Homo sapiens: one gene and its partners. The protein of the gene in region 6 interacts with the protein of the main gene of each other region in a pairwise test. Each region holds a gene or a part of one and is shown on either strand. Other genes may lie near its edges. The genes, in order: DNAJA1, FBLN5, ZNF251, SNX3, DIS3L, PAXIP1 and TM2D3.

What was found.
Region 1: the proteins of PAXIP1 (region 6) and DNAJA1 interact in a two-hybrid assay, tested with the Homo sapiens proteins (one large-scale study listed by BioGRID).
Region 2: the proteins of PAXIP1 (region 6) and FBLN5 interact in a two-hybrid assay, tested with the Homo sapiens proteins (one large-scale study listed by BioGRID).
Region 3: the proteins of PAXIP1 (region 6) and ZNF251 interact in a two-hybrid assay, tested with the Homo sapiens proteins (one large-scale study listed by BioGRID).
Region 4: the proteins of PAXIP1 (region 6) and SNX3 interact in a two-hybrid assay, tested with the Homo sapiens proteins (one large-scale study listed by BioGRID).
Region 5: the proteins of PAXIP1 (region 6) and DIS3L interact in a two-hybrid assay, tested with the Homo sapiens proteins (one large-scale study listed by BioGRID).
Region 7: the proteins of PAXIP1 (region 6) and TM2D3 interact in a two-hybrid assay, tested with the Homo sapiens proteins (one large-scale study listed by BioGRID).

The regions. Positions count from the first base shown.
Region 1 is NC_000009.12:33,028,273-33,031,772, forward strand, and holds part of DNAJA1 (dnaJ homolog subfamily A member 1), read left to right. Parts: intron 1-1,612; coding exon 1,613-1,717; intron 1,718-2,167; coding exon 2,168-2,395; intron 2,396-3,500.
Region 2 is NC_000014.9:91,871,803-91,874,694, reverse strand, and holds part of FBLN5 (fibulin-5 isoform 1 precursor), read left to right. Parts: intron 1-1,019; coding exon of another isoform or gene 1,020-1,198; intron 1,199-2,892. UniProt on the Homo sapiens protein: Essential for elastic fiber formation, is involved in the assembly of continuous elastin (ELN) polymer and promotes the interaction of microfibrils and ELN. Stabilizes and organizes elastic fibers in the skin, lung and vasculature.
Region 3 is NC_000008.11:144,745,532-144,749,031, forward strand, and holds part of ZNF251 (zinc finger protein 251), read right to left. Parts: intron 1-3,500. UniProt on the Homo sapiens protein: May be involved in transcriptional regulation.
Region 4 is NC_000006.12:108,254,541-108,258,040, forward strand, and holds part of SNX3 (sorting nexin-3), read right to left. Parts: intron 1-3,500. UniProt on the Homo sapiens protein: Phosphoinositide-binding protein required for multivesicular body formation. Specifically binds phosphatidylinositol 3-phosphate (PtdIns(P3)).
Region 5 is NC_000015.10:66,292,391-66,296,367, forward strand, and holds the start of DIS3L (DIS3-like exonuclease 1), read left to right. Parts: upstream 1-1,177; 5' UTR 1,178-1,206; coding exon 1,207-1,345; intron 1,346-1,424; exon of another isoform or gene 1,425-1,696; coding exon of another isoform or gene 1,697-1,784; exon of another isoform or gene 1,785-2,058; intron 2,059-2,597; coding exon 2,598-2,751; intron 2,752-3,977. UniProt on the Homo sapiens protein: Catalytic component of the RNA exosome complex which has 3'->5' exoribonuclease activity and participates in a multitude of cellular RNA processing and degradation events.
Region 6 is NC_000007.14:154,975,625-154,979,124, forward strand, and holds part of PAXIP1 (PAX-interacting protein 1), read right to left. Parts: intron 708-3,500; coding exon 72-707; intron 1-71.
Region 7 is NC_000015.10:101,645,882-101,649,381, forward strand, and holds part of TM2D3 (TM2 domain-containing protein 3 isoform a precursor), read right to left. Parts: intron 1,019-3,500; coding exon 844-1,018; intron 1-843. UniProt on the Homo sapiens protein: Probable positive regulator of Notch signaling.

The DNA of each region.
Region 1 (3,500 bases), on a different chromosome or scaffold from region 6:
CTTTATTGTGTCAAAATTATGTATTTAATATGTTTATCAGGAAAGTGGCCTATGGGCTCTAGAAATACTGCTTATAGGAGTAAAATGTTCAAGAGAAATCAGTCTCACTTTATTTCCAGTATAGTGTATACAAATAAGGGCTGATGAGCAGAACCAGTTTTAGAATGAATGGCCAAGCCATTAAATTTCACTTTGAGCTTCTTAAGGTTCAGAAAGATTTGGGAAATTGTTTATTCAGTTTTTCTTTAAAGATCTTCAAGGAAAGGATTATGTTTTTATTAAGATACTTAAACTCCTTAAAAAGAAAGTCCACAATCCAAATGACTTGCTTAGTAAATTGTTAGAATTTGTCCACAAAAAAGTAGTGGTGGTTTTTCACTTACCTTACAAAGAACCTGCAGGTTAACATTGGCAAGCTCTTTTATGTGGCTTATGATCATATTGAGAGGTTATTTCTGGGGAAATGCGCTTCATCAAGCTCTAGAAGCTTTATTTTTCCTTCCTTATACTCAACACTGTTCAAAATAAGGGCAGCTAGATTTTAGCGTGCCAAAACTAAAGGTGGAACTATAAGCAGAAGGACATAATTAATGGTATTTCATGCTTGATTAGAAAGTTAAAATGTTCATTAGGCATATTGTACAGAAACGAGTTTGAGAACTTTTTTCAGTTGGTGGAAAGGCAATAATATTGTTGTGAATAAGTCCTTGTGGAAGGACCACTAGTTAGGAACTTACTAACTTACTAGCAGGTGACTTCATACTTCTAACCTCAGTGTCCTTATGAGATCTTGACCTTCCATTTCCTATTCTGATTTAAGTGAAGTAAGGCACTCCTTAGTAGCCACTGGCCATGTGTGGCTCCATTAATTTAAGACAAAAACAAAAATACGGTTTCTTAGTCTAAATGGCCACATTTACATGCTCAATAAGCACATGTGATTGGTGGCTGCTACGTTGGACAGAACAGATATAAAACATTTATCACTGCAGAAAGTTCTGTTGGGCAATGCTATTATAAAAGGTATGAGAAATTTGGCCTTCAAAACAACCAGTGCTGGCCCAGCAGTAAATGGGCTGTTTTCTACTAAATCAGGAAGAAGTAGAAATTGATACTCTTCTGTGGTGACTCAATAAATACATCAGCTTCCCTGGCCAATCTTGATTAATGAGAATTTACTGTGCTACAGAATTTTTGGATGAAGTAATTGGCCATGTTGCTCAATACGGTACGAAGTGAAAGCTTCAAAAAATATATTGTGACAGAAATGAATGTTTGGATTATTGTGAAATGTGCCCTTTTAAATAACATTGGTTTTTCTCAAGTGACTTTGAAGGTAATGCTTTTGCTTACCATATTTCCAAGATGGCCACGTCTGTGCCCTTAAGCAAATATTTAATCTCTGACCTGATTTTCCCTCATCTGTGATTACATCACAGTTTGAGGATCATCTGTGATAACGTGAACATTCTGTGTATATAGTAGGTAGTCAACAGATGTACCCTGTGAGGCTCATCTTTTATTATTCTTTGCCACATTCTTTATAGTGCCTTTAGCACAAATAAGATCCAGCATCTTAAACAGATTTGCAATGAGAAATATTTTGTTTTAGGTAAAAATGTTGTACATCAGCTCTCAGTAACCCTAGAAGACTTATATAATGGTGCAACAAGAAAACTGGCTCTGCAAAAGAATGTGATTTGTGACAAATGTGAAGGTACGGTGTTTTTTTGTTTTGTTTTGTTTTGTTTTTAAGCACCTTTAATATGACACCTGAAAATGGAGCTAAGACTTCTAGATAGATATGTAAAATTGATTCATGTACACTACCTAGATTTTGGGGGAGGAGAGGGCAGATATGAAGAAAACCAACTGAAAACCTCCCACCTAAAGAAATATCAGCACTTTTTTCTGTGTATATTTTAAATACAGTTGGGATCAAGCTAGTTTGGTATCTTTTTTGTAATAAGTAAAATTTATTGGAAAGTGTGTTCTAATAAGAATGAAACTCATTGGAATGATCTCATCAGTTGTACATTCAGAGGGTAGCATTCCATCAGGCTTCGAAAATATTAAAAGTATAGCATTTAGGAATTGTCTTCTTAAAACATTTACTACTGTATACACTACTAATTCATACATTATTTAATTTTCTTTTTAAATTTAGGTAGAGGAGGTAAGAAAGGAGCAGTAGAGTGCTGTCCCAATTGCCGAGGTACTGGAATGCAAATAAGAATTCATCAGATAGGACCTGGAATGGTTCAGCAAATTCAGTCTGTGTGCATGGAGTGCCAGGGCCATGGGGAGCGGATCAGTCCTAAAGATAGATGTAAAAGCTGCAACGGAAGGAAGATAGTTCGAGAGAAGAAAATTTTAGAAGTTCATATTGACAAAGGTGAGTTCTGAGTTACTTATTCTGAAGTCTTGAATGCTGTGGCAGATTTATTATTAACATTTTATAATTGTTTAAAAATCATTCTTAATTAGGTTATATATGATCCTATCAATCAGAAATAACTCTTAGCAGCTTAGTAAATAATGTTCTTTTATCCAGACATAATTTTGCACATTGGTATATTACTAATACAGAATATATTAGGAATCTCCTCATTTAATATAACAGGATCATCTTTTGAAATCTGTGGTCCTGTAAATGATTGAATAGTGTTCCAAACTTAATTCTCTCCTGTTAAACCATAGTTCTTCCATCTTTTAAAACATTAGAATTGTACACATTCTTAATTAGGAGTTACTAGATCAAGGGATAGGCATACTTTTAAGGATTTGAAAGGGGAGTTAGGTGAAGAATTGGGTCTCATAAAAATTCATGGTTTTTTTGGAGACGGAGTTTCGCTCTTGTTTCCCAGGCTGGAGTGTGCAATGGCACGATCTCAGCTCATTGCAACCTCTGCCTCCCGGGTTCAAGCAGTTCTTCTGCCTCAGCCTCCCAAGTACCTGGGATTACAGGCACCCAGCACCATGCCCGGCTAATGTTTTGTATTTTTAGTAGAGACGGGGTTTCACCATGTTGGCCAGGCTGATCTCGAACACTTGACCTCAGGTGATGACCTGCCTCGGCCTCCCAAAGTGCTGGGATTACAGGCATGAGCTACCGCACCCCGCCTCATGTTTATTTTTTAAACCAATGGGCATGTTTTTGTTTGTTTGTTTTTTTCTGAGGTAGAGTCTTGCTCTGTTGCCCAGGCTTGAGTGCAGTGATGCGATCTTGGCTCACTCTAACCTCTGCCTCCTGGGTTCAAGCGATTCTCCTGCCCCAGCTTCCCAGGTAGCTGGGACTACAGGTGTGCACCACCACACCTGGCTAATTTTTTTTGTATTTTTAGTAGAGATGGGGTTTCACCATGTTAGGCTGGTCTCAAACTCTTGACCTCAAATGATCTGCCTGCCTTGGCCTCCTAAAATGCTGGGATTACAGGTGTGTGCCACCATACCTGGCCTGGGCTAGTTTAAATAAGCGTATTGGCCCACTTAATTGGCTT
Region 2 (2,892 bases), on a different chromosome or scaffold from region 6:
GCCTGTATGTGCCAGACACTATTCTAAGTGCTTTCTATACAGTAACCCTTTAATCTTCACAAGAATCCTATGATATAGGATGGTTTTATCGTCCAGATTTTACAGATGAGAGCACTGAGGCACAGAGCTAAGCAACCTGCCCGACTAGTCTCACAACTAATAAGCACCAGGGCAGGATTTGAACCTAAGCAGCCTGGCACCAAAAATCTGTGCTGTTATACTTTTCTTCAGAATGGGGAGGTATGCTTTACCTACTCTTCCAGCTTTGGGGTCTCAGATGAAATGGAGATCACAAGAAAAGTCTAACATCCAGTTACAATAGAAAGTATTCCAGAAATAGCAGTTATGATTGTATAGATACTGTTGTGGCCACTGCTACTGTTGCTGCTACTGCTGCAAGGAGGCTGGGAGCTGCTGGGCCATGGAGAGCTTGGGAATGCTACCCAGGGGACTGGAGCATCGTGTGGGAGGTGGGGCTGGATGGCCATCCAGGCTCTCACACCCTGAGATTCATTGATTTGATTATAACCACATGGGAGGAGCTTCATCTCACCCCGCAGGCAAACCACACACACACACTTGCATGCACACATGCACACACTTATGCCCACATGCGTACGTGTACACACACACACAAGCCCATTCATAAGCCTTATTGGCTGCCTGTCTCTCACTGAGCCCTAGAAAGAGGACTGATGATTGGCTTTGGCCAGGTGGCTTGGGGGTCATAATTAGGGCCAGAAGAAGGAGCAAGGTCATGGGGTTCAGACTGTGCCAAAGTGCACTTACTCCATGACACACGTGGATCAAGTGACAGGGCCCATGGAAGCTGGCCTGCTACAGCGTGGCTGCTTGCCACAGGTCAGACCATGCCATCCCACAAGTTGATTAGAATAAACCTGAGTGTGTTTGGGATCAGGGCCAAGAAGACACACAGCTGGTGGGCTGTTGGCAGCCGACTCCCAGCGTGGTCAAGTCCACTGGCGTTCAGTCATTCGTGTGCATTCTTCCGTTACCAGCGTGCATTCAGCACCACTGCATATGAGGCTTCAAGTCAGGCACTGAGCGTTGAGAAACAAACAGGATGTGGTCTCTGCCCTGGAGGAACCCACACACACCTTAGCGGAGAGGGGGAAAACAACCTAGCAAACACAACACAAAGTGGCGATTCTCAAGTCAAGTCAAGACCCATGGGATGGTGAGTAAATGGAGAGGTACAGAGACCTTATCAGAGAGTGTAGTGGTTAGAAGCATGATTTTTGGAGCCATAAAGTCTAGTACCATGCAGTAGTTTGGTGGCCTTATGTAGTATCCCTAACCTACTTAGAGCATAGGGTTGTGAAGATTAATTAAGAGGTGTAGGAAAGGTTGTAGCCAGATGCCTGGCATCATAACCACCACCGTCATCACTGTCGCCACCATCCTCCTCCTCCTCATCTTTTCGCACCACCAAGCCTACTAATGCCCACGGGCTCTCAGGGGTTTATTTCATTAATGCCCTGGCTCTGCCCTAAAAGCCGAATGTGGAGGTGGCTGTCCTCAGCTCTTGTGGCAGGTACTTGAGCTCTTCCAGGTGCTTGTGGGTAGGGTGGACCCAGGTGGAGGCCGGACTCACCAGCTTCTGCAGTTACTTCCAAATGGGAGAGTCTAGGATTTCAAATGGGATAGTTGAGGATTCTTTCGTACTCAGGAGACATTTACCAGGAGAGCCCAAAGGAACAACTTGGAAGTTTGCACTTGCCCCCTTCTCCCTTCCAGACCTTGGGCTCTGCAGATCTCCCTCTGGAGGGCTGTCCCTAGCTCAGGGTTCTCAACTCTTGGTCTTTGTTCACGCAGTGAAAGCTGGTGAGATATTTGTATATGTAAAGGCTGCAGGCATTTCCTTGTGTGGCTTTACCCTCTGAAGCCCTGGCCCAGGGCTCAGGTTTCGTAAGGGCTGACAAGGAAGTCCAAGAAATCTGCGTGAGGAGGTGCCAATAACGTGGATGCTGACGGGAACAGGAGGAACCAGTGCCAAGAGGAAATTGTGTGGCTGTCAGGCTGCCGATAGCCTCATGGATAGGGGAGGTCCCAGCGCCTGGCCTGCACCTGTCTGCCAGCCCCACCCTTGTCTTACTTGTGGTGGCTCTTGGGGATGTTCAGAACTTTATGGGGCGCCCTCCTTTTATGGAGACAGATAAAACATCTAGTGTAGCTTTAAACCAGCTAGGTTCCTTTATTTTGCAGAGACTGTTGCTTGCAGCTTCTGGGCACAGGGCTGGGCTCTGCAGTGTATGGGAAGTGATTGTCCAGCCCATCCCTTTTCTTCTTCACACTGTTTCCTCTAACAGTGCCAATATCTGTCCCTTGCACTGACCGCGAGCATCTCTCATTAGGTGGGTGCTAGGAAGAAGTGAAACACACATCAGCCTCTTCTGATACCTGCTGTGCAGTGAAAAAAGCCTGGGGCTTGGGGTCAGAAATACCTGAATGGAAGCCCTTGGTTCTGCCCAAGACTAGCTGGGTAACCCTAAGCAATTATTTAACCTCATGGGACCTCAGTTTGCTTACTTATAAAACGGGGAAGTAATGAGTCATACCTTTCATACAGCACTTAGACAAGGACAGCCAGGGCCCCCCCACCTGGGTCCTGTGCTTTTAGATCAATATTTCTCAATACTTAATGTGCACACAAAGCCCTGGGGATTGTGTTAAGCCACAGATTCTGGCTCAGTAGATCCTAGCCCTGAGATTCTGCATTTATAAGAAGCTCCCTGGTGATGCCCATGCTGCTGGTCCAGGGACCACACTTTGAGTGGCAAGGCCTTTCAGGGTTTTATGAGAATTTTTTTTTTTTTTTTTAGCTGGAGTCTCGCCGTTGTCCAGGGTGGAGTATAGTGGTGCGATCTCTAT
Region 3 (3,500 bases), on a different chromosome or scaffold from region 6:
CAGAATAACCTGCTGAGTTTTTTTCGTTTTTTAGAGACAGGGTCTTGCTCTGTCAGCCAGGCTGGAATACAGTGGCATGATCATAACTTACTGAAACCTCAGACTCCTAGGCTCAAGCAGTCCTCCCACCTCAGCCTCCCAAATAGCTGGGAATATAGGCACATGCCACCAGGCCTAGCTAACAAAAAAAATTTTTTTGTAGATATGGGGTCTCACTATGTTGCCTAGGCTGGTCTTAAACTCCTGGGCTTAAGCGATCCTCCTGCCTTAGCCTCCCAAAGTGCTGGATTATAGGCATAAACCACCACACTTAGCCCCTGAGACTGTGATTGAGATTGTGTTGAATCTGTAAATCAAGCAGAGGACTGACATCATGATAATACTGAGTTTTCCTCATGAACAGACTATCTCTTCATTTATTTAGCTCTTCTTTGATATATTTTTATCAGTCTTGTATTTTTCCTCACAGATTTTGTACATATTTTGTTAGACTTACACCTCAGTATTTTATCTTTAGTGGTGCTAATGTAAATAATGTGTTTTTAACTTCAAATTCCACTTCTTCGTTGCCAGTATAAAGGAAAATGTAGATTTTCTGTAGATGCTCTCTATCAACTTGAGGAAGTTCCTCTCTATTCCTAGTTTGTTGAATTTGTAATCATGAATCGAGGTTGGATTTTGTCAAATGCTTTCTCCGCATCTACTGATATGACCACATGATCTTTCTTCAGCCTGTTGATGTGGTACATCACATTACATTAATTTATTTCCTAATGTTGGACCAGCCTTGTAAACCTGGGACAAATCCCACTTGGTCATGGTATATAATTCTTTTTATACATTGTTGGATTTGATTTGCTAATATTTTGTTGGGATTTTTGCATTTATGTTCATAAGAGGTGTCTGTCTGTAGTTTCCTTTTCTTGTAATGTCTGTTTGGTTTTGGCATTTGGGTGGATAACACTGACCTCATATGAGTTAGGAAGTATTCCCTCTGTTTTTATTTTCTGGAAGAGATTATAGAGAACTGGTATAATTTCTTCCTTAAATGTTTGGTAGAAGTCATAAGTGAACCCATCTGAGCCCAGTGGATTCTATTTTGGAAGGTAATTGTTGATTTGACTTATTTAACAGACATAGCCCTATTCAGATTGTCTATTTCTTCCCGTGTTTGGGAGATTGTGTACTTCAAGGAATTGGTTCATTTATCAAATTTGGGCACAGAGTTGTTCATCTTTTTTTTTTTATTACCCTTTAAAAGTCTGTGGGACATCTCTGTAGTGATGTTCCCTCTTTCATTTGATATTAGTATTTTGTGTCCTCTCTCTTCTTTGTCTTAGTCTGGCTAAAGGTTTACTGATTTTATTGTTTTTTCAAACCATCTTCTGGTTTCGTTGATTTTCTCTATTGATTTCCTGTTTTCCATTTCATTGATTTCTGCTTGAATTTTTATTTCTTTTCTTCTGCTTACTTTGTATTTAATTTGCTCTTCTTTTTCTAGTTTCCTAGAGTGAAAGCTTACATTATGATTTTAGATCTTTCCCATTTTCTAATACATGCAGTCAATGCTATAAATTTCCCTCTAAGCACTGCATTCACAGCATTCCACAAATTTTGGTAAGTTTTATTTTCATTTTCACTTAATTCAAAATATTCTAAAATTTATCTTGAGATATCTTCTTTGACTCGTGTTATTTGGAAGTGTGTTATTTGCCAAGTACTTTAGGATTTTCTAGCTATCTTTCTGGTTTCATTTCTAGTTTCATGTCATTGTGGTCTGAGAATAGACATTCTATGTTTTCTATTCTTCAAGTATGTTAAAGTGTTTTGTGGCCCAGAATGTGGTCTATCTTAGTGAATGTTCCACATGAGCTTGGCAGGAATGTGCATTCTGCTATCGTTGGATGAAGCAGTCTACAGATGTAAATTATTCCCAGCTGACTGATGTGATGGTGCTGTTAAACTCAACTGCATCCTGCTGGATCTGTCCATTTACGATAGAGGGTGCTGGATCTCCAACTGCAGACAGTGAACTCATCTATTTCCCCTTGTAGTTCTATCAGTTTTCGCATCACATATTTTGTTGTTGTTGTTTTTTGAGACGGAGTCTCGCTCTGTTGCCCAGGCTGGAGTGCGATGGCGCGAATCTCGGCTGACTGCAACCTCTGCCTCCTGGGTTCAAGCAATTCTCCTGCCTCAGCCTCCCGAGTAGCTGAGATTACAGGCATGAGCCACCACGCCCGGCTAATTTTGTATTTTTAGTAGAGATGGGGTTTCTCCATGTTGGTCAGGCTGGTCTCGAACTCCTGACCTCAGGTGATCCACCCGCCTCGGCCTCCCAAAGTGCTGGGATTACAGGCGTGAGCCACCGTGTCCAGCTGGTTTTGTGGTTTTTAGAGATAGTGTCTCACTCAGTTGCCCAGCCTGGAGCGCAGTGACGTGATCATAGCTCACCGCAGCTTCAATGTCCTGGGCTCAAGCGATCTGCCCTTCCTGGCCTTCCAGAGTGCTGGGATTACAGGCATGACTACCACACTTGACAACCTCACTTTTTTTTTTTGAGATGGAGTCTCACTCTGTCGCCCAGGCTGCAGTGCAATGGTGCAATCTTGGCTCACTGCAACCTCCATCTCCCAGGTTCAAGTGATTCTCCTGTCTTAGTCTCTTGAGTAGGGGGGATTACAGGTGCACTCCACCATGCCTGGCTAATTTTTGTGTTTTTAGTAGAGATGGGGTTTCATCATGTTGGCCAGGCTAGTCTTGAACTCCTGACCTCAAGTTATCTGCCCGCCTCGGCCTCCCAGTGCTGGGATTACAGGTGTTAGCCACTGTGCCTGGCCAACCTCACATATTTTGATGCTGTTGTTAGGCCCATACACCTCAAGATCTGTTATGTTTTGTGTCTAAAGTAGTAAGATATTTCCGCTTTCTTTGGATTACTATCTTTCTCCATCCCTTTTGTGTTTTTATGTTTAAAGTGGGCTTCTTTTCTTTTTTTTTGTTCATGGCAAGATCTTGTCATGAGACAGCAGGTTTCTTTTTTCTTTGCAATGGGGTCTTGCTCTGTTGCCCAGGCTGCAGAGCAGTGGTGCAATCACAGCTCACTACAACCTCAACTTCCTGGGCTCAAGCGATCCTACCACATCAGCCTCTTGAGTAGCTGAGACTTATAGGTACACAACACCACACCAAGCTAATTTTTTTAACTTTTTGATGAGATGATTTCTCACTATGTTGTTTAGGCTGGTCTCAAACTCCCAGGCTCAAGGGATCCTCCCACCTCGGCCTCCCAAAGTGCTGGAATTACAGGAGCCATCACTCCTGGCCGAAGCAGGTTCCTTATAGAAAACACAGTTGGGGCCAGGCACTGTGGCCTGTAATACCAGTGCTTTAGGAGGCCAAAGCAGGAGGACTGCTTGAGGCTCAAGAGTTTGAGACCAACCTGGGCAAAATAGTGAGACCTGATCTCTACAAAAATAAAAAAAGAGCTGGATGTGGTG
Region 4 (3,500 bases), on a different chromosome or scaffold from region 6:
CTGGGGAAGTTAACTTTCTTAAACTTCATTTATTTGTAAGTGTCCACTATGTGCCAAGCAGTGTTGGATATTGAGTAAGGGTGATTATGACAGTCCCTGTCCTCTAAGAGCTTATAATGGGTGACACAGGAACTTACAGGAAGCCAAAGACAAGCAAACAAATTTATTCCTAACAAAGCTACCAGGGCACACAGGAAGGAAATCTGGTCCAGAGTCAAGGGATCAGCAAAATCTTTAAAAAGGGGACATTAAGGCTGAGTCCTGCAGGATAAGTGATAGTAACCAGATGAGGCTCTTAAAGGAAGCCTGTTCTTAACAGAGGAGGAAGTGTGTGCAAAAGGCCTGGATACAAAAGAACTCAGCTTAATTGGGAGATACCAGTTCAGGACTGGAGTTAAAATGAGGAAAGGACAAGAGATGAGGATCAGTTGATCAGCTTCTACAGGAATATTATCTACTCTGCTTGGTTACCTCAAGATTAAATTTTATAGATAGAGCACAGTGCTTTGCACATAAAAGATACTCAAATGATACATCCCTTAACAGAACAGAATCCCTAAAAACTCAATATAACAGGACTACTTTAAAATAGCCACTGTCTTCCTCCCCCACTCTCCATTCTGGGGATGGATTAGATAAGGACAGAATCTTCACTGCTAATAGCATGCTTCTCCTTGATGGAGATCCTGGAAAAGTCAGCCGTAGCTGGCAGCAACATGTGTAACAGACAACATCTCATTGGCCAATTGATAGAGCTACATAGATTCTGCAGATGTCCTCTGGCATCAAAATGCCCTGATTTTTTTTTCTTTGCTTTGCTTTTTTTAGAGGCAGGGTCTCACTGTGTCACCCAGGTTAGAGTGCGGTGGTATGATCGTGGCTCACTGCAGTGTTGACCTCCTCCTGGGCTCAAGAAATCCTCCCACTTCAGCCTCCCACATAGCTGGGACTACAGGCACACGCCACCATGCCTGGCTAATTTTTAAATTTTTGTAGGGACAGGGTCTCACTGCGTTGCCCAGGCTGTGTGGCAACGCCTGAGCTCAAGTAGTCCTCCCACCTTGGCCTCCCAAGTGCTGGGATTACATACAGGAGCCACCGTGCCCGACCCCCCGATTCTTTAAAATACTATTAATATTTTAGCCCTTCAATAATACATGTTTATAATTCCCAAAAATAAGTCTAAGATTTTAAAATTTATTTCTCAGCTTCCAATCTGGATATTAATGACTCCTAATTTAAGATTAGATGACTGACCCAGAGGAAAAAACATATACAAGTTTAGAACGGCAAGCACTGTCAAGATAAGATGCTACATTTATTTAGCACCTTGTCAAAATTTTTATCAGCCAACGTTATTATTCAGCTTTATGCTTTAATAAAGCTCAACTTTAAAAGATTATTTGGAGCCTGGCATGGTGGCTCACACCTATAATCCTAGCAGTTTTGGAGGCTGAGGTGGGAGTATCACTTGAGCCCAGGAGTTCAAGAGCAGCCTGGGCAACATAGTGAGATCTCGTCTCTACAAATAATTTAAAAATTAGCTGGGTGTGGTGGTATGCGCCTGTGGTCCCAGCTAGTAGAGAGGCTGAGGTTGGGAGGATCACTTGAGCCTGGGAGGTCAAGGCTTCAGTGAGCTGTGACTGCACCACTGCACTCTAGGCTGAGAGACAGAGGGAGACCCTGTCTCGAAAAAATAAATACATACACAAAGGTTACTTGGTTAAGTACCAAATAAGATAGCTTATTTTTATACCATGCTTGCTTAATGAAGGTATACTTCCATGACAAGTAGGTTTCTTGACAAGAAAATCTAACAATTTTAGTAACTCAACTAAACATTAACACACAGAAAATGTAGTTGATCACTGACGTTTAATTTAGAAAATGTCTATCTTTAGAAAGAGCTAAATTTTGCGTGCTTATTATGTGCCAGGCACTGTGCTAGAAAGATTCATGTGCCTTATCCCATTTAGTCCTAAGAGGTAGGTACTATTATTAGCACACCTATTTCACAGAGGGGAAGTGGAGCTTTGATTTTGTATCTTACCCAGCTAGGAAATGTTAAATCTATTCTTTGAACTGAGGACTATGTCAGAGCTCAAGAAAGATTCTAATTCCATTCCTGTTCAAAACAGTGGTCTCCAGGTAAAATAGATCTTGATTAACTTAAAAATCTCCAGAATATTAAAGTTATATTACAGCACAAACTTCATAAACAGTGACTGAATTTTGCTTTCAGCCTTCTCTTGAATATGCCTAAATAATTCCAGACCTTGAACTTTCCTAAACCTTTAATCATTTATGGTGCTCTCTGCTGTACCTACCCATTAGAACAATTTTTAAAAACATAACACTGTGTAATTATTTTCAAAAGCCCAGAGATACTAATCAAGTGATCCTAATAGTCTTAAACACTATCCTCAAACCAAAAGATAAATGGAGATTGGGAAACTTGCATTCTAAGTGCCACCATCCATATAAAATTGCCCTGTGAATTAGAGTAATTTCAATCAGATCCTGTAAAACTGTAAATTTTTCTCAAGACCAGAATGAGACAGTAACTGTAAGATAGTTTAAAAGCCCAAATTCTGGAACATAAAATGGTTTTCCACATAGCAAATTCAACAGCAAAAGGTAGTCAGTAGGGGTTCGGGAGAGCAGCAACATTTAGAAAATAATAAATAAAATTGCAGGGCTGGGTGAGGTGGCTCATGCCTGTAATTCCAACACTTTGGGAGACTGAGAGGGGGAGGGCCACTTGAGGCCAGGAGTTCAAGACCATCATGGGCAACATAGCAAGTCTCATCTGACAAAAAATAAAAAATTAGCCAGGTATAGTAGTACCCTGTAGTCCAGCTACTTGGGAGGCTGAGGCGGGGGGAATACTTGAGTCCTCGAGTTTGAGAATGCAGTGAGCCACAATCATGCCACTGTGTTCCAGCCTGGGCTACAGAACGAGACTCTTATCTCAAGAAGAAAAAAATTACAAAATATTAAACTATTCATGTCATAGCCACTCTGCCTTAATGCAAGACTATAATTACTCTAAAAAATCATATGCTGCTCAAATAAGGCCTAATTTCCTTACTATATGGTGTCCTTAGTTTTAAGTTAACACATTACATACTAAAAGAAATCCAGGCTGGGCATGGTGGCTCACGCCTGTAATCTCAGCACTTTGGGAGGCCAAGGTAGGCAGATCATGAGGTCAAGGGACTGAGACCATCCTGGTCAACATGGTGAAACCCCGTCTCCACTAAAAATACAAAAATTAGCTGGGCGTGGTGGCGCGTGCCTGTAGTCCCAGCTACTTGGGCGGCTGAGGCAGGAGAATCGCTTGAACTCGGAAGGCAGAGGTTGCAGTGAGCCAAGATCGCGCCACTGCACTCCAGCCTGGCGACAGAGCAAGGCTCTGTCTCAAAAAGAATAAAAATAAAAATAAAAAAAGAAAGAAATCCAAAGTCATTTCATGCATTAAAAACTCAATTAGGTTTTCA
Region 5 (3,977 bases), on a different chromosome or scaffold from region 6:
GGATTCTATCCCATCAAGGGTGTGTGATCTCAGAAGAGACTGTGTGCATCTCTTTATCAAGAGCTACAGGCTGGGCGTGGTGGCTTACGCCTGTAATCCCAGCACTTTGGGAGGCTGAGGTGGGAGAATCACTTGAGCCCAGGAGTTTGAGACCAGCCTGGGTAACATAGTGAGACACTCCCATCTCTACAAAAAAAAAGAAAAGAAAAGAAAAGAAAAAAACGCTAGGCGTGGTGGAGAAGATCGTTTGTGCCCAGAAGTTCGGGGGCTGCAGTGAGCCATGATCATGCACTATACTCCAGCATGAGTGACACAGCAAGACCCTGTCCAAAAAAAAAAAAAAAATTAATACAAACATGTACGTTTGTGATTGTGTCACAGTGGCAGTTTAAAGGAGAAATCCTTTGCCAGAGGCTGCAAAAGCTATAAAAGTTGGAGTGGAACAGTGCTTCAAGGGAAGAGATTGGTTTTCATTTTATCTGCATTGTTTGATTATATAAGTACATGATAACTTCAATAGGGATACCAAAACAAATAAATAAATTTTAAAAAGAACATGAAAGGCCAGGCGCAGCAGCTCACACCTATAATCCCAACACTTTGGGAGGCCGAAGCAGGTGGATCGCCTGAGACCAGCCGGGCCAACAGAGCAAGACCTGCCCCCCTCACCCTCCCATCTCTACAAAAAAAGAAAAAAACTTTAAAAAAAGTACATGTAATTTTAAATGAATATAACTTTTTAGAAATGTTCGGCTGGCAGGGTTGCCGGCTTATGTGCTGAGTCTTTTACCTCGTTTGGAGATAGCGAGAGCAACGAAGAGAAAACATTAATTACCCGGTATTAGTATTAATACGGCGGCTCCATTCCCACATGGACCTGGGGGGGACAAACAAAGTCTCCTAATCTTGGACAGCTGCGCCCAGCCCTTCTTCACCTGCCGTCCAGGTATCATCCTAGTCTTCCCTCCGTCTCTGGGGTAGGTCGTTTCCACCCCTCCGCCCTGGTCCAGGCCACTGAGGGAAGGGAAGAAACTAAGGCCGGGAGGGCCGGGCCCCAGCCTGGAGCGTGTAGCTCCGGGCCTCCCCCGGGCGCGGCAGTTACGGCGGTTCCGGAGCCGCGGCGCCTAGGGCCGAGGGGCGGGTCCGAGGCCGCGGCCTTGCCTCCGCCGCGCCCGCCACTCCGCGGCCGCCGGGAGACACGCCGCCATGCTGCAGAAGCGGGAGAAGGTGCTGCTGCTGAGGACCTTCCAGGGCCGCACGCTGCGGATCGTGCGCGAGCACTACCTGCGGCCCTGCGTGCCCTGCCACAGCCCGCTCTGCCCGCAGCCCGCCGCCTGCAGCCACGGTCAGGGCCGGGGCGGGGGCGGGGACGGGGCCGGCGGGAGCGGGCGGCCGCAGTGAGGGGCTGAGCGCGGCCGGGAGGCGGAGCGCCAGCGGCGGGGACACGGAGGCGTAGGCCCCGCGGCCTGCGCCCGCTCGCCGGCCTCACCCCCCGGCTCTCTGCCGGTGGGGACCCAGCGGCCCGGGTCCGCGGCTTCTGGGGCGCCCGGGACTCCCTTACTGCTCCGCCCTGTCCAATGGGAGGGCCCGACAGACCCGCACCCCATGCCGGAGGCCGGGTGGTTTGGCTCCTCAGAGGGGCCTGAGGGCGCGGAAGCCGAGGCCTCCTCCCGCCGCAACCTCGCGCCGTGGAGAAATGGGGAGGTCCCGAGCTGGGAGCCCCCGGGAGCTACAGGCCAGCTGCTGCCGCTGCGAAGCTGACATCGCCTGCTTTGCAGCCACAGGTTTCCTGACCTGCCCGCACTGTTGCCCCAGACTTTTCCCCCAGTGGAGAGCCACTTCACCGTAGATTTGTGAACTCTCTGGGCCCGCACTGGAGCGGAAGGTCACGGGGAAGTTGGACTGGGGACTCCTGGGCCCCAGTCCTTGGTTTCTAGGCCACAAGGGTGGCCGATAGAACGATGCACGTTACTGGCTCTCTTCCCCCATGGGAGGATGAGAATGGGCTGGGGGTCCTTGTCAGCGAATGTGTGGAATCCTCCAAACATTGTGATTAAGGTGAACATTTCAGTTAGAGCTTGGCTAACCAGCTCTCAGATGCAGGTCTGGTGGGAAACCTCACCTCTGCACGTTGCTTGCACGGAGCATTTTCTCTGTTCAATCTTTCTGGCCCTTGGAGGCTGCTGAGCACGTGCAGAAGCTTGACACAGAGCCAACTTTAAATTGCTGGGCATCATACACAAGTGGTATAAATGTGGGGGTGCTTCATTTGAATGTGTTTGTCAATGATGAGTTAACACTGAAATATTCAGGTTATGCTGAAAATGTGCTTGTTCGTTGTTAAATCAGCCATCCTCTCCGGCACCTCTGGCAACACCATAAACCACGTTGAGCTTGTATTTATCACAGCTTCCAAAAAAATGAGGGTGCTCAATATACCTGAACTTTGGGCCTCTACCAAAGTAGATTTGTCTTTTAAAAACTCCCACCATGGAGTTAAGACTGGAAGTTATTTTGCATGCCAGAGCACCGTGACATTTAAATAAACCAGGTTTGAAAACATTGTCTAATCTCTTACATTTTGAATTATGTTTCAGATGGGAAACTCTTGTCTAGTGATGTGACTCATTACGTGATCCCAGACTGGAAAGTTGTTCAAGATTATCTTGAGATCCTTGAGTTTCCTGAGTTGAAGGGAATTATTTTCATGCAGACAGCTTGTCAAGCTGTGCAGCATCAAAGAGGCAGGAGGTATACGTTTTGCATTCTTTATTTCTATATGGCATAGGTTCCCCCCACCTTAGAAAAGGTCCCTTGTCGGAGGGGGATGGGAGGAATTCATTATTTTGTCAGAAGGGACTTTTAAAACTAATTTCGTATTCTCTTTGATAGTGAGGAATGCAGTAACATTATTTTATATTTCTGCTTCAACACCTGGCCAAGAGATCTGACTGTAGATTAGTAAACTGCAGTGTCCCCAGTATGTGGGTATTTAAGATTCTAGTGTGAATTGTCTTTTGGCTTGCATTTTTATAGTGGCAGGGTTATTGCTTATTTCTTGTTGATAATGTGTATTATTTAATCTTATTTATAGATACATTGTTTCAGAAGCATACGTTCTTTTCTTGGGGAAAAGAGTACTTTATTTTTAAATTTTAGACTCTTTTATTGGGGATGCAAATTGTACTTGTAATGATTTATTCAATGAAACCAGAAATAGCTTGTTTTATTTTTAGATTACTAGTGTAACTACCAGCCATAGTCATTGTATTTGCTAAACAAAGGCTTTCTAATTGAACAAGTCTAAAATTCTTGCCTAGTACTTAAATGAAGAATAGCTGTCTACCTTTTAAACAAATACTTTGAAAAACGATTTTGCTTCCTTTAATGTTGGGAAAGGTTTATGACTTGAACTTAAAACTGTATGGAAATAGCATATTAGAATTATACGTCCAACCTTTTAACACTCTAAGTTATTTAATAAGCACCAACTATGCATTTATTCTTTTTTAAAATGTTGTGGTTTCTTCAGGCCTTAGTGATAAAAGATGAAGTGTTTTTATTTGTATATGAAAATGGCAAAAAATTGTCCTCTTATTATATGCTCAGTTCAAAAAACATACATTAACCAGATTGTGTGCAGGTTTTTTCAGATAGAATATTTTTAAATGATCTTCAAGTTGATTTTGTTCAGACACCAAGATATAGATGTTTATACACATCCAAATTTAAATGCTGCTCCAGGTGTCATATTTCAGTTTCTGCTACTAAAATCAATTTGTTGTTATCATTCAGATTGCTAACACACTGCGAGCCTTTTCAACTTCTGTTTTCTGAAATATTTTTAATGTTAAGGATTGTTTTAGAAACCAGTTCCTGGGACATTCAAAGACAAAGAGTTGGAATTTAAACGTTTTTTTCTCCTGAACATTTCAAGAGTAGTTAACTTGATGAAAAACTATTGGTTTTCCACTGCC
Region 6 (3,500 bases):
ACATTGAAATAGACTGTGAAATCCAATTCTAAGATCCAATACTGACATTTTTTTCGGAAAGAGTGACTTACATGTGCTACATTTGATGGCCGGTTCATCTGCTGAATGTCAGCATTATTAGTAATATTCCTCAGTGTCCGTACAGCTGGACTCCAGGTAGCTATCATTTCTGATCTTTCAGAACTTTGGAGGTTTTGTCCAGCAGCCATTAAATTACCCCGGACCTCAGGGGGCAAAATGTTACCTGGGACGGGTGGGACATTGGCACACAAGTTAATCAACCCAGGCTCCTTTCCCTGAGGCAGCCTGCGTTTTGCTGCAGCTAACTGTGGGACTTCGGCCGGGGTCCAGTTTAAATTTCTCTCCTGTTTTTCCGGTGATGAATCTGAAGAATCATCAAACATTAATTCCCCTTTAGATTTTTCAGTGTTGGATTTAGGTGAAAACTGCTGGTCACCTGAAGGAGACCCTTCTTGAGAGCTGGCAGGGCTTGACTTCTCATCTGTACTACCCTCATTCTGAGAATCTTGTTCCTCATTTTCTACTTCCTCCTCCTCTTCCTCTTCCTCTTCTTCCTCTTCATAAATAATCAGACGAGGATGATAAAATGCTTCGTCCTTTTTGGTTTTCTCTGATACGCAATCCAGAACCCAGTCAGGAGTCACAATTTTAATACTTGCTCGCTTTAAAGCACATTCGTATTTCTCCTACGAGGAAAGCAGAAACACACACAAAACAAAGCTGTAAATTTTATCACATTTCCTACAATTACGCATTTTAGAAAAAACTCAGTCAAGGAATGCAGTTGAAATGTTGAGCAACTATTATTACAATTTTATACAGAAGCAACGTTTGATCTTTTAGACAGAGGACATGAGGCAAAAGTGAAAAGGAACCATACAGCAGTGATCATAGGAAGGTCTCACACCTGTAGCAGGAGTCTTAAAAGACTTGGCTGAAAATTAACTTTTTAAAATGATATTTTAAGTACAAAAGTAGAGCTAGTAATCCTATGGAAAATTATGAAATGAATAATTGCTACCTAAGTTTTTACTGATTGATAATATTTAGAAGCTTGGTTTTCCATGACAGTTAGTAAAGTAACAGCGTGGCAGAGTGCCGCCAATGCATCACGTACACTCATGGAGCATGGCTGACTTGGCTGACTTGCATAGGACAGCTCTATTCAAGATCCAGTATTTATGGAGCTCATGCTATATGCCAAGCAGCACTAAGGGATGGAGACACAAAGGATGCAACAAGTCTCTGACCTAACAAGGCTCACAATTTGGTTCTAAAGAGATATTAAATACGGAATGCAAATACAATATAAAACCACTGCTGAATGATGCAGTAACAGACTGGAAGGGAATCTCATCAACATAAGCTGGAGGGCAGGAGGAAAGCCCCGTTGAAAGGTGAGCTTTGGCTGGGGCACAAATGATGACAATTTGCACAGTTAGAATGAAAGCAGAAAATACAGCCCACTGGAAAAGATGTGTCCGGAGTAGTATGTTCGGCAAGCTAACAGAGACCTCTCCTGTGGTAAAGGGTGTAGAATGTGGAAGGCACAGGGGAGGGAATAACAAAGAAAGAGGAAATAAATAAAAAATGTTAAATAAGAGTAATATGACAATAAAGTAACCTTAAAATAAATGAGTTGTAAATTTGGCTGTGCTCCTAAAAGCTTAACACATAACAGCAATTCTCTAGCAAACACATAATCAGGGCCCTAAACTAAACTCCGTGTCCTGTTGCAGAGCCCCAAGGTGGCATTTGCAATTTCTGGGTGGAATAAGAGTCACACGCAATAGGGATGCGGGGCAGCAGCACAGAGAGGACAGCTGTTGGTCATTCGGTCCTGGCAGCGAACGCCAGGCATTGCCCATCTGGGAGATCCTTGCAAATAGTGAGCTCTGCACACAGCTCAGTGACTTAACTTGTGTTTGTGAGTTTGTTCTTTCTCAAACCTTTTTAAAATATAAGAAAAACCTAGTCATGGGAGACACCCATGAATAAGAAGCTAAGCAAAGGAAAATGAATGTAATCATAATCACACTGACTAGAAAGGACCACGATTAACATTTTTAGGGTATAGTTTAAATTTATTTTTGTTATAAATATATATGTACATATATTAAAAGGGCAAAGGGAAAAAACATATAGTCATAGTGAACAAATACTTTATAATGTTCCTTTTTCACTTAATATATTGTGAACAACCTCTTCCTATGAAAACATGTATACTTTTATGCTTTTGTTTTTAACTTTTTAATGTACATTTTCGAACACAGACCAAACTTTTTAATGTACATTTTCGAACGCAGACCAAACTTTTTAATGTACATTTTCGAACGCAGACCAAATTAGAGACTAGTGGAATAAATCCCTTGTATCTGTCACCCAGCTTTAATAACTGGCAATCTTTTACAAATCTTGCTTCTCCTGAACTTTGTTTACGGATCTCAAATTGATAAAGACTTTCTAAACCACCATAATTATCATAGCAGCACAATGAACTATGATTCACCTCATCCTCAGGCCCTATTCAGATCTCCCCAGTAGTCTCAAAGGCTTTTACAGTTTCCTCTTCGGTTGCACAGCTGTGTACCTTAGTTCATCCCCCAGTGTTAGCCACGTGGTTGTTTCCAGTGTTTCACTACTATGAAAAACTGCAGTTATATTTTATGACAAATTCCTAGGTTTTGGTGTTGAGGTTTGAAAAGGAATAGATTTAAGGCTTCATATCTCTAACTACACTTCCCTTCCCAAAAAGGCTATTCCAATTACACTTCCAACAGCTATGTAAGAGTACATCAATTTACCTATACCCTCGACAATAAAATGTCTTATTCTTTACCCTAAAAAATCATGCTGTTCTTAAATATTTAAAAGCATAAAATGTTATATAGCTCTCCCCAGATGATAAATTTCTACTAGAGATTTTCAATTTCTGGACTACCCATTCCAGAAAAACCCAAGTTATTTTAGGAAAATATGAAGTCCAGGTACACAGCAGAATATTTATGAACCAATTAATACAAAAATATCATCTGCTTGAATAACATATGACTATATGTAATATGGTTTACATATGATTTTTCCAAGTTAAAAAGATATCTGTTGAAATAGTAAAATATGAAAAAAAGTTATTTTTAATTGTTTTAACAAATACCAAAAAACAAAACAAAACTACTGCCATGAAGAGGAGTCACTGAAAATTTTGGATATGAAAAAGATAATTTCACACTTAAAAGGCTGGGATCCAGTAGGCTCTTGAGTTCCTAGTTTGTATAGAATGCTGGCATTTCACATTTCAGAAATAACTTGACTATTTCCTGTGGAAATCTAAGTAAAACACTTAGGTAAACAGCCTTACTATATTTCACTCAAGTTTTCTCTCGCTTTTCACAAGATAGGTAGTTTTTAATCACTGAAAGACAGTAACTGTTTAAACAAAGATGATTTAAGAGGAAAGCAATGTTTAGATGCCTTTGCCT
Region 7 (3,500 bases), on a different chromosome or scaffold from region 6:
GAAGTCTAGACAACTTTAAGACCAAATTTAAGAATAACCACTCTTGGAGAGAATATGGCTCATCAGGAACAGTTACATAGCGCGGGTGGGAATGCCAGTCAATACAGCCATTTAAAGAATGACACACGCTGGAAAGTACATGCTGAAGAAGCTCTTGCACCTGTGCCATTGGGAGACAGGCAAAGAAATTTGAACAGTCACAACAGCGGAAAACAGCACTTAACCAAATATATTGGAGAATAAACTGTGATACAATCTTACAATAGATTATTACACAGAAGTAAAAAAAAGAAGAGAAGTCACGTGGATGAATCCTAGAGCCACAATGTTTAGGAAATAAGCAAGTCCCAGAAGAGCACACAGCCTGAAATCATTTTACACGGTTCTAAAACATGCATTATTGAATATTATTTTATTACATATAGACAATAAAACTACAGAAAAAATTTAAAAGGAAGTGAAATAAAAAATTCAAAAGGGTGGTTACCTTGGAAGAGGAGGAAAGGCAACCAGGTGAAGGCAAGCACTCAGGCACTCAGGCGGCCGCAATGGTATTGGTGCTGCTTTCATTGTTATTTTGGGTAAAGGTCAATTACTGTGTATTATGCTTTATACTTCAAATGTTTTTCTTATTTTATCAAATATTACATTTAAAAAGAACTGCAATTTTCTGGATGCTTTACTTTAGTACGTTGAGTTTATTGATGATGCTTGGCACATCTAAAGAGCTGCTGATAAATGTTTCTAATTAAGTAACTTGACTCGCAAATTTCTGGTTAAAGTCCCTTCAATAAACTTGGAGAAAAACATTTTGTTGACAAATGTCCTTGAACTCTGACCTACCCAAGCAGTGGACGTGGTCCCGCACCGTGCAGTTGGCAGGGTAGCGCTGCCGAGGACAGGACACCGTCATGCAGCTGGTGGAGTTGGTACACTCGTAATCTGTTTCAGGAAGCTGCCAGCAAAATCTGCAAGTCATGTTAATGATGAAGTTCTTTTGGGATTTGAAGTCTTGATCCTATGTAGCAAATGACACAAAACTCATCAATCACAATGGTGTAGTCTGTTAAGATGTCAGTAAGACTACACAGTCACATGGCACAAAATTCCGTAAATGCTTGTATTTAGGACCTAGGAGTAAGTGCCAGAAAAACAGTTACCAAAACAATATGTATGTAAAACAAATGCCTATGATGTGACCTCATAATCATAAAACTACACACCCAAACATATGTACTTAAGGGAAAAAACTAGATAAATTCACATCAAAATAGCAAAGGTTATTTCAGGGTGATATAATTATTTCATAACTTTTGCTTAGCTAAATTTTTCATAGTAAACGTATACTTTTATAATGCAGAAAAGAGGAAAATTTATTTTAGAAAGTCACAATCACGGATGGCTGGAAGGAACTGATGAATGCATTTGTTGAAGGTCACTGAGCTTCAAGTGAGGAGTGGAATCCAGGTCCCTGAACTCCAGCCTGATGCTTCTGTAATGGTTAACACACCGCCTTGCTTCCGAGTTGCCAACCTTCCCTAACATCCCCTACCTTGCACAGCCTGGCAACTCAGGGTTGTTACAGCTGCTCCTACCACCAGGGCATGTGGCATGTTTAATCCAGAGGCAGCCCAACTCAGAAGCACCACATGGTGTGTGGAGGCTCAGTGAGTGTTCACTGGTGGCCAGAGAATTTTTCATTTCAATTTTAAAAGCCATTATTTTGTATTCTGCTTACAAAAGTAGAATGTTCTTTGTATGTTACATATTTGAAGATTATAGACAAAAACCTATAGGTGTTCAGAGCTAACCACTTTTAATCTTCTTTCCGTTTCTTCTACATGTATATTTATAAATTTACTAAAATGGAATTATACTGAAAGCACTTTGTAGTCTTTTTACTCTACCTGACATTACATTGCAGTGCATATTTTTCAAAATCATTTTTATGTGGTCACACATCTCTGGAAGCATCATGTATATATATGTATACATATATATACACATACACACATTATTTTTTTTTCTTTTTTTGAGATGGAGTCTCGCTCTGTCGCCCAGGCTGGAATGCGGTGGTGCAATCTCGGCTCACTTCAACCTCCGCCTCCCAGGTTCAAGCGATTCTCCTGCCTCAGCCTCCTGAGTAGCTGGGATTAGAGACGCACCCCACCACGCCCAGCTAATTTTTGTATTTTTAGTACAGATGGGGTTTCACCATGTTGGCCAGGCTGGTCTCAACCTCTGACCTCAGGTGATTCACCTGCCTCGGCCTGCCAAAGTGCTGGGATTACAGGTGTAGGCCACCACGCCCGGCCCATGTTTGTTATTTTTTTTAACATTTCACAAATTTGCATGTCATTTTTGCAGAAGAGCCATCCTAATTCTCTCTGTATGGTTCCAACTTTGGCATATGCGCTGATGAAGCAAGTACTATTCATTTTCTTATCAATGCAAAAACCACTTTTTATGGAAAACATTCAAATATGGGTAAGGCATCACTTGATTTAGGCAAACAGTTGGATCTGCAAAATAATACGTTTACATCTGCCTATTTTCAGTGATGTGCTTAAAACACACTTTTTTTAATGGTTTTTTAAAAAGTAGGTGACACATGTACATGGAACACATGTCAAGACACAACAGGAGAGTGAGAAGTGAGCCGGCCTCGTCTGGCCCAGCCGCCGGGAGCCCCTGCCCTCCCCAGGCCAAGTACGCTCTGTGCTTCCAGAGAGAGCTGATTCTACACATAGGCACATTTATGTCACCTACATTTAATGTTCCCCAATACTTTCACTTAATTTTGGACATCTATCAGTACATTACCTCTAGAGCTGCCTAGTTCTTTTTAATGGCTACAAGGTGTTTATTCTATTACACGTGTACCATAAATTAAGCAGTTCTTAGACATTTCACTTCTTTTGAATCTTTTGCTTTAATGAGCAATGCAGCTAAAAAATAAGCACACTTATCTGCATCCATGTATAATGATATCTATAACATAAATTCCTACATGTACAACTACGAGCTCAACGATTGTGTGCATGTGTAAGTTTAACAGATATGGCAAATCGCCTACAAGAGGTTGATCAATTTGATTACCTATTAATAAGATATGAGCATCTGACCCTTATACTCTCACAAACTCAGAGTTAATCAAATTAAAAAAAAATTGCCAATCTAAGGGTTAAAAATGTATTAATTAAATACTATGAGAAAACTTATATGTTTTTCATGTTATATATCTATTTGTATTTCCTTTCCTATGAACCATCTGCTCATGTCCTAACACTGTTTTTCTACAAGACTGTCATCTTTTCCGTGTGGGTTTTAGGAAGTGTTTATATATTACTGATATTACTGTATTATTTGTCACATATTCTAGAAACGCTTTTTCCTAGTTTGCCATGTCTTTTGCCTTTATGCTTTTTTTTTTAGGTCATGCAGAAATCTCCAATTTTTAGGAGTCAAATGTATCAATTCTTTATTTTATGGCTTCTAAA